Linked DNA regions of Homo sapiens: all the other regions are reported to be linked to region 3. Evidence: microRNA targets listed by miRTarBase, many of them from high-throughput screens and not tested one by one. Region 3 holds a microRNA gene; each other region holds the end of a gene's coding sequence.

The links. Region 3 holds the annotated microRNA hsa-miR-204-5p (UUCCCUUUGUCAUCCUAUGCCU, at 983-1,004, shown strand). A microRNA usually pairs through its seed, bases 2 to 8, with sites in the 3' UTR of a target mRNA and lowers its output. Matches are read on the target gene's strand: a 7mer-m8 pairs with bases 2 to 8, a 7mer-A1 pairs with bases 2 to 7 and ends in A, and an 8mer does both.
Region 1: miRTarBase lists ARHGAP6 as a target of hsa-miR-204-5p. Seed matches in the 3' UTR shown: 7mer-A1 at 1,503-1,509.
Region 2: the mRNA of CDH8 is a reported target of hsa-miR-204-5p. Seed matches in the 3' UTR shown: 7mer-m8 at 143-149.

The regions. Positions count from the first base shown.
Region 1 is chrX:11,136,186-11,139,185 of GRCh38, reverse strand. It overlaps ARHGAP6 (Rho GTPase activating protein 6), which reads left to right. Exons shown (of 13, transcript NM_013427.3): 13 at 1-1,642. The coding sequence ends at 323. Among named protein-coding and RNA genes, the nearest start is that of HCCS, 26 kb to the right of the region's middle.
Region 2 is chr16:61,651,181-61,654,180 of GRCh38, forward strand. It overlaps CDH8 (cadherin 8), which reads right to left. Exons shown (of 12, transcript NM_001796.5): 12 at 1-2,921. The coding sequence ends at 2,428. Among named protein-coding and RNA genes, the nearest start is that of CDH8-AS1, 270 kb to the right of the region's middle.
Region 3 is chr9:70,807,765-70,811,034 of GRCh38, reverse strand. It overlaps MIR204 (microRNA 204), which reads left to right and starts at 951; the gene lies at 951-1,060. All of the region lies in intron 6 of TRPM3 (transient receptor potential cation channel subfamily M member 3), which reads left to right.

The sequences.
Region 1 (3,000 bases), not on the chromosome of region 3:
AAAGACCCCATGGGAGTGGGAGGGATGACAAGCGGCCCCCGCCTCCATACCCGGGCCCAGGGAAGCCCGCGGCAGCGGCAGCCTGGATCCAGGGGCCCCCGGAAGGCGTGGAGACACCCACGGACCAGGGAGGCCAAGCAGCCGAGCGAGAGCAGCAGGTCACGCAGAAAAAACTGAGCAGCGCCAACTCCCTGCCAGCGGGCGAGCAGGACAGTCCGCGCCTGGGGGACGCTGGCTGGCTCGACTGGCAGAGAGAGCGCTGGCAGATCTGGGAGCTCCTGTCGACCGACAACCCCGATGCCCTGCCCGAGACGCTGGTCTGAGCCCGCACCCAGCCGAGCCCCCCCTGCCCCGAGCCCCCCGCCCTCCAGCCCAGGGGGGACCGTGGGTGGTGGCCACTGGCACACTTAGTGTTCTTCTTTCACACTTCTCAAAAGTGACACAAGAGAAATCCAGTTCACCTACAGAGGTAGAGCACTCACGCCCCCGCCATTGAGAATAAGGTTCCATTGCGTAGCCAGCCTTAGGAAAAACAAACAGAACCCAAACCAGATGGCAATGTCCAATCTAAAAACGTCCCTCTTGGCTCTATAATATAAGATACAACTCTTGCTTGGTATAGCCTAACCGTATTTATGTGTCTTCGGTTTTGACTATTGTGTATTCTGTAACAGATTATGTATAATCATATATGATATATTCACAAAGAGAAAACAAAAGGAACTTTTAAAAAAAAAATCACTTCACTTATATTAAGCAATGAGATATACTAAACAATGAGATTCTATAGAATGTTCTAGAATGTGCACAAGCGGGTTTCTGTGCTTTTGCCATAGCTTTATAACTGGGGATAACCCTTCCTTCGATACCAAACACTAACAAGAGGAAGCAGAATATGAGAAGCCATATTTTTACATAGGAGTCAGATACAAAAAGAAAAATCACTGAATGCTTTTAGATATTGAATACGTTTTCAGGAAAATGCTAAATCTGATAGATTACGAAATATATTTTTAGAACTTGTTTAGAAAGGATTCAGTTAACCAAACAAGAAAAAGGCAGTGCCTCACAAAGAAATTAAGAAGTTGTCCGTCCCACGTTACATCAAATTCAGTTTTATATAGGCCATATATAATATATATTTATAATGTATAATTTTTATGTATTTTTCAAAACTACAAACTGGAATCCAACTATAAAGTGTTTAAGAATCTACACAGAATATTCAAATTATAGAACATGTTTTTTCCCTTTGCCCCATAATCAGTATTTGCCAAATTACATGCAATTCCTTAAAAACTAAATCACATTTGGTAAAAGGCCTACAGCTTTGTACTTACATTGTGCCAAAGGCTGAGGAAATGTTTTCTTTCGTAATTTTATGTGTATTGTAAAATGTTCTACCGTACTTTAGTAGTTTGAAGTTTTTCAAGTGCATAACTATTTTTGACCAGCAGATGGCGATACGCTTCAGTATTTTATGCAATTTTTTTTCACTTCTGAAGGGAAAGTGTATTATAAAAAAAGATTTTTTTTTTTTTTATAAAACATGCTACTCTTAATTTTCATGTTGGTGATGAAATTCCCAGTGGTGTTTCTTAAGGTTCTATCTTGTGCCATGATGAATAAAAAGTTAAGCAAAGGCTTTGTTTCCTGGCTTTAAATCTCTTGAATGAATTTGCATCACATTTCAGACATATTCTTCACTATCCACAGATCCAAGTGTAATAAATCATGGCAATTCTATGCATATACATATATAGCAAAAAAGCTGGTTTAAAAATATCAGATGGCTTTGGGACATCAACTCAGTGACACCAAAGCATTTAGAAATGTATAATAATTTGTTGCAAGTAAAGGCTGATTTCCTCGACTGTTGAAGAGGTGGTTTTCTACAGGACTGAAACTCAGGTTTCCTGAGTTTCCTGAACTGTGTTGGGCAGCTGTTGCCCAACGCAATTCCTGTTAAGCTACACCTGCTCTGTGGGCCTTAGATGCCTAATTTGCTTCAGGGCCGAAATAATAAAAGCTAGAAGTGGCATGTGGTATTTCTTATTTGGGAATGGTTTGAGATAGCTTCAGGCTCTGCCATCCGGTCCAGCACTTCCACCACTGGCTGGGACTCAGGGAGGATTTGCCTGCAGACCTCTGGTTCTTCCTGACTGCCCACACTCAGCCAAAAGTTGTCAACAAGATCCAGAGGAAATGCTGCTTGGTTGTGGATCGCAGGTGGCTTTTCTGTGCCACCTACTCTCATCCTACTCCTGCTGATGCTACTTCCCTGGCTTTGAATTTGACCATGATCTGATCAGTTCTTTCCCTCCTTCCTAGATTGGATGGCCTGATAAATGCGACTCTCTTTCTACCATGTTCTTGCTAGAGTAGTCCTATTTTTAAAAAAACATCCAGATCAAATGGCCCTGAAGTTGATGCCTGTGTCAGAAAAGGTCACGAAAAGTATGTCCATCTGTTAATAGATCTAAAATAAGCAGTCCAGAAAACAGGACTCACAATATCTTTTACATATATCTCAATATTCACTCTCCCTCTCTTTGTACATTTAAGCTTAGGGGCCATGTCTTTAGCTTAGTGAGTTACAGCTTGTTTCTTTTTCTCTTTTGAGATGGAGTCTTGCTCTCTCACCCAGGCTGGAGTGTAGTGCTATGATCTGTGCTCACTGCAACTTCTGCCTCCTGGGCTTAAGCGATTCTCCTGCCTCAGCCTCCTGAGTAGCTGGGATTACAGGCGCACAACACCATGCCCGGCTAATTTTTGTATTTTAGTAGAGATAGGGTTTCCCCATGTTGGCTGGGCTGGTCTCGAACTCCTGACCTGAGGTGATCCACCCGCCTCGGCCTCCCAAAGTGTTGGGATTACAGGTGTGAGCCACCGTGCCGGGCCTTGTTTCTTAAATGCCTTTATCATATTGAAAATAAGCAGTTTAAAAAAAATCGTACATGAAACCCAAAGACCTGAGGGAAATTATCCTTTCTAATACCT
Region 2 (3,000 bases), not on the chromosome of region 3:
TCTCCTTGGTTTGGAAGGTGTAAGATAGTTGGAATATTACTATTGGTTATTACTGCAACTACTACTAATAATTTACATTCACCAAGCACTTGTTTTAGACACTGTGCCAAGTCCTAGTATATTTTAAAGTCATGTTGGACCATCCCTTTGACCTCAAGAAAAAGTGTTCACTAGCCGTAATAATACGCATAAAAGATGACTTATTCTCAGCAACAGAAACTCAATAAAAAGTTGATTAAGCCACCGGATAGTTATAAATTGTTAGTATAGTATTTAAACATGCAGTTTCTGTCACAGTGAAGGTGGCCTCTAGAAGTTGGTGCGTTCAGCTTTTGAGTCAAAAACCGTTCTCTTCTTAGCAGCCCCGCACCAATGACTGAGATGACAGAGGACCACAGCCTGACTGCTTTAATGGATGTGTTTTCACTCTAGAACCCCCTGTCAGACTGGCAGAGATTTTGCCAGGTCCGCACTGCAGTCTAAGACTCTCTTGCCAAATCCTGCTCCCAATCCCTCTATTGTTACAAGTTTTAGGTCTGCAAACTTGTCTGAAGGTTTTCCCTGCCCAATGCGTCTGCTTCCAGAAGGACCCAAATGACACAGCTGGACTAGCCTTTAGGTGTTCCATGTTCCTCTTATGTCCCTGCTGGTATCTTGCTGTGTGATCACTGGCAAGCCATTTCTCTTCTCTGTTTCTCTATAATAAAGAGTCTTACAAACAAAAGTGACCCTTGGGATGATTTGGTTGAGTATTCTAGAATTTTAGTTTGAGTTGATGATTCTGTTAATAGATCTTCCACTGATTGAAAAAAAAATTAATGACAACAAAGGTATTTATAAAAATATATTTCACAAAGTAGGAAACAATACAGGAGTTTCTCTGAATACAATACATGGAGTGAATAAACAATATTGCATTAAAGCAAAGTAGAAAATTAAAATGATCTGCATGTAATACTTGAGTTTTATCATACATTTTCTACTCCTAAATGGCAGGTTTGCATTACAAATTAAATATGCTCACATCTTCTAGTGCTGTTCCTTTTTGGAGTCTAAGACATTCTGTGCATCACCATGAAGATCAGGGATAGGAGTGCTAAAAACGTAAACAGTGAAATTATGTACAAATCAGTTCCTGCTCTAAAACTGTGGGGGTAAATTGAAGCATGTTTATTGGGCAGGGCATGATGTAGGTATCTAAAAGTCTAGAGTTTAAATATTCACAGGAATCAATATACTTTAGGATGTTTGTGCTTGTAGTAAAAACACCAAATACTAGGATTATGAACAAAATAGAAAACAGTCCAAAAGTTTGTCTGGGAAGATGCTGTTCCTGCCATCTCCAGTTACAATAACACTTTCTACTCTAAAGAGACTATTAGCTCTCCTTTCGATAATATTGCCTGCCATACTCATCTCATCAAAATGTACATGTATTAAACATTCATTGTATATATATTTATATAAAACAATCTAAAGGATTATTAATGGATATAATTTAGTTTTTTCCCATATATCCCCTTAATCTATAGATTACCGACCTTAATAAATAAAAGCATTAATGGACATCAATAAAATATTTATTTCGAGGATTAAACAAATAAATTCACGCGCTAGCAATAAAACCATCTGTCTCTTATGTAGTCCACTGTGTGATACAGTTTATCTTTGTGTCCTTGTGGAAGAAGATGAAGAGGAGGGAACGAGGAATCCTGCTTCTAGAAAACAAGCATGTTTGAATGGGATTTCTCTCCTCCCACCACTGAATTGGCAAGCCCCACCCTGGAATGGATTACGAACATGTGAATATTTTAAGGCTCGACACAATATTTAAAGATGCTATTCAGTCTCTAGTGAGTGGGGCCAACAATTATGTACAATGTGTGGTCACCGTACTGTATAATCTAGGAGGCCTCTCAAAACTCCAAAAAGTTATAATGTACAGCAGACCAAGTATTGCTTTATCATTTGTGGCGGGATCCTTATTGGTGAAGGGGAAAAAACCATTTGCATTCATAAAAATCCTTGCAGAAGACACATATCAGCAGCAGATTCCTTGCAGGTCCGTATTTTTTTTTCTAAGAAAGCACCTTTTAATTATGATTTTTTCCTCTATTTAAACCATTTATCTAAGGATTAGCCAGGATCCCAATCTTTGTCTGTGGTGGTCAGGTAAATATCAAATATCCAAGGACTTCTAGACACTCCACATACTTAATTCACACTCCACAAGATTTATAACCTCCTAACATATACTTTTTTATTTTATTATCTTTTTTTGGTTCAACATTAAAATGTGGTTGAGTTTATAGATGACTGGTGCTAAACTTGCCTCTAAAACAAATAGCCACATTGGTTGTATCTAAGGGGAGTGACCCTAGAATATTACAGAATGCTCAGTTCCAGTGATTTATTTATAATCCACTGTCAAGTTTCTTTGTCACTTTCACCAACAGAGTAGAGTTCGCCCAGTCTCTTAAAGCGGGGACCCCAGTCACTGAGGTAGTCAAAATTCTGGTCTGAGTCTGATGTGGTGGACTCCAAGGAGCTGAGGGAGCCAGCCACTGACCCTCGGCCTTCATAGCCATATATCTGAATGGAGTCATATGGCGGGGCCGTGGGATCATTATCTGCCTCATGCAGCCTTACATTTATAAATTCATCGACATCAACACCATTTGGAACTGGAGCAAGCCCTTGCCTTGGCATAAACTGCAAATCTGGTTTAATATCCTTACGGGGTAAAAATCCATTAATTCCATCTGGATTTTGTAAAGTTGCAATGTCAAAAGCCTCTGTGTCCTCCTCCCCTCCTCCTTCATCATCGTAGCGAATGATGTTTTCTCGAACGTCTTCATCATCTTTGATAATTAATGGTTCATTTTTATGCCGCCGTAGAGTTACAAACAGCACCACGATGACTAGAGGAAAAATATTAAATAACAGTCAGCCAAACAAGCATATAATTTCACAAGCAACACACTATATATGTTAGGAGAG
Region 3 (3,270 bases):
TTCAACCACATCAGAAATTAGTTACTCCCTATTATTTATCATCCTAAAGATACCATATAGGACAGCTTGACGGCACTATTGGGATACTACTAGGAGGGAATGAGCATTTATTTAGGTTCCAAGCACCATGCTAGGCATTTTCATATATACTATCTCTTTTAATACTCACAAAAACCCTTCAAGATAGGGATTATTTTCTTCCTTTTATACAGTTGATGAAATGGCACCTCCAAGAGGTTAAGCCTTTGCCTTAAATCCAATTAGTGGCACAGCTGGGTGCAAACCTAGGCTGACATAATTCCAAAATACTTTCTCCTTTCATCCTACACATGGAAGCATTATCTCATTTTTTTAAAAAGGCTCCCCTAAAGTTTGGTTACCTTGGAGAGTTTGAGGGTCATTATTCCATTCAGCAACTATTTGAGCACCAACTCTGTGCCAAATATAGGTTGAGCATTGATTCAGTTGGAATGAGTCATCAAGCAAAACTTTGGGAAGAAGATGGTGGTTAGTTGCAAGATGGTGGAGAAACAATATTAGGAAGAAATACAACAGGGTGCTGGAGAGGAGCGTGGGGATGGAGGCAAGCAGAGGACCTCCTGATCATGTACCCATAGAACAGGGCGATGGAGAGGAGGGTGGGGTTGGAGGCAAGAAGAGGACCTCCTGATCGTGTATCCATAGGACAGGGTGATGGAGAGGAGGGTGGGGTTGGAGGCAAGCAGAGGGCCTCCTGATCATTTACCCACAGGACAGGGTGATGGAGAGGAGGGTGAGGGTGGAGGCAAGCAGAGGACCTCCTGATCATGTACCCATAGGACAGGGTGATGGAGAGGAGGGTGGGGGTGGAGGCAAGCAGAGGACCTCCTGATCATGTACCCATAGGACAGGGTGATGGAAAGGAGGGTGGGGGTGGAGGCAAGCAGAGGACTTCCTGATCGCGTACCCATGGCTACAGTCTTTCTTCATGTGACTCGTGGACTTCCCTTTGTCATCCTATGCCTGAGAATATATGAAGGAGGCTGGGAAGGCAAAGGGACGTTCAATTGTCATCACTGGCATCTTTTTTGATCATTGCACCATCATCAAATGCATTGGGATAACCATGACATGAAATTTTCCATCATTGGGCCCATAACTGTCCCATAAGAGAGATGAAAAACACTGTATGTTAAAGGTCATAGTAGAACTTCATCCAAGCAGCTCTGGAATTAGGAAGGAGTGAAATATACTCTCAAAGACTAATAGTTCTGGGTCCAAACCATGTGACTTGAAAAGGAAGCAAAGATTCCCCTGGACAGGTTACATATACTGTCATGCATTGCTTAACGATGGGGTTACTATATCCTCAGAAATGAATCATTAGGTGATTTTGTCATGAACATCATAGAGTGTACTTATACAAACCTAGAAGGTATAACCTACTACACACCTAGGCTATATAGTATAGCCTATTGCTTGTAGGCTACAAACCTGTATAGCATGTTACTATGTGGTAGTGAATACTGTAGGCAACTGTAACACGATGGTAAGTATTTGTGTATCTAAACATAGAAAAGACACAATAAAAACATAGTATAAAAGATACAAATAGTACACCTTAATAGGGCACTTACCATGAATGGTGCTTGCAGGACTGGAAGTTGCTCTGGGTGAGTCACTGAGTGAGTGCTAGAATATTTTTGTATACTACTGTAAACTTTATAAACACTGTATAATTAGGCTATACTAAATTTATTTTTTAAATTTTATTTCTTCAAAACTAAATTAACCTTAGCTGACTGTAACTTTTTTACTTTGTAAACTTTTTAACGTTTTAAAACTTTTAGACTATTTTGCAATAATACTTAGCTTAAAACATAAGCACATTATGCAGCTATACAAAAATATTTTCTTCATTTGCTTATTCTATGAGCTTTTTTCTGTCTTTAAAATTTTTTATCTTTGTATTTTTTAAACTTTTTTCTTAAAAATGAAGACACAAACACACTCATTAAACTAGGCCTGCACAGGGTCAGAATCATCAAGATGTCACTAGGTGATAGGACTTTTTCAGCTCTATTACTACCTTATGGGACCACCATTGTATTTGTGGTCTGTCATTGACCAAAGTGTCATTATGCAACACATGACTGTATATCAAGAACATCTTATTTCCTTCTGTGGGTGCTACAATCTGTTCAGCCCAATCATGCAAACTTTCTACTGCCTCAAACAGTCAAGGGAAAGGCCTTCCAAAACACAAATACCAAATTGATGATCAGTTCACTTTAGACTGTAATGACATCATTTTTCAGGTGCTGTCAAGTAAACATGTTTAAAGCTTTCTCCGCCTTTTAGAGGGTCTTCCCTCTAAAGAATAATTTGTGAGGAATAAACAACACAATCTATATCCCTGCTTTTTCATTATATGAAACGACTTGACACAGTTGGCTGTGTAACTGAAATATTTGTCATGCTTGTTAATGAAAAGTTACTTTGTCAATAAAGGTAATAATGAAGCCAAAAAAATAACTTTGAGGGAACAGAGCAAATTTTAGCGAAACTGGTTTCTTGGTATTGACTTGTCATGTTTATCTCACCCATTTTCCTATTCAAGCTAAAGACCTCCCTTTTTTCAGCAAAGAGACTTTTCTACATTGGAATTAGTTGTTCAGGGACTGGGATAGTTCTTGTAAACAAGTAGGTCCCAACAGGAGAGCTGTCCACCATTCTAAGACTTCTTAGACACTTTTACATTCAGGGAAGAATTTTGAGCTCCCTTTTCAGATTAGAAAGATTTGGGTTGCCAATGTTTGACTGGCATTTTGGTCTCAAAGTCAGCAATGTTTACTGTTGTTGGTCAGATACAATAGGTTCCTAGCATAACATAGGAACCTGTTATCTTGATGGAACCCAATATCTTCCTTATTTCATTGCTAACTACCTTTCATATTTTTCATCTGTTTTTATAGCTTCTCCTAACATAACACCATGTAGATCGTATGTCCCATCCATTTCAAGATACTTACAGTTTCCCTTAAATGATATACCCTACTGGATGTGGTTTTGTCTCTTTCTGACATTTACTAAAATTTCATTCTCTTCTCACTCTAACTACCTGGCCAAAACCTAAATTCCTTCAAGTCTCAGATTAAAAATCTTCTCCTCTCTGTAATCTTACCACAACTCCCATCCCTAGTATTCCCTCCAGCTCATACCCTGGTATCCTCCTGGGCCCACATTCACCTCATCCTCCATGCTCTTGCTGTGCTCTATATCAGCCTCTCC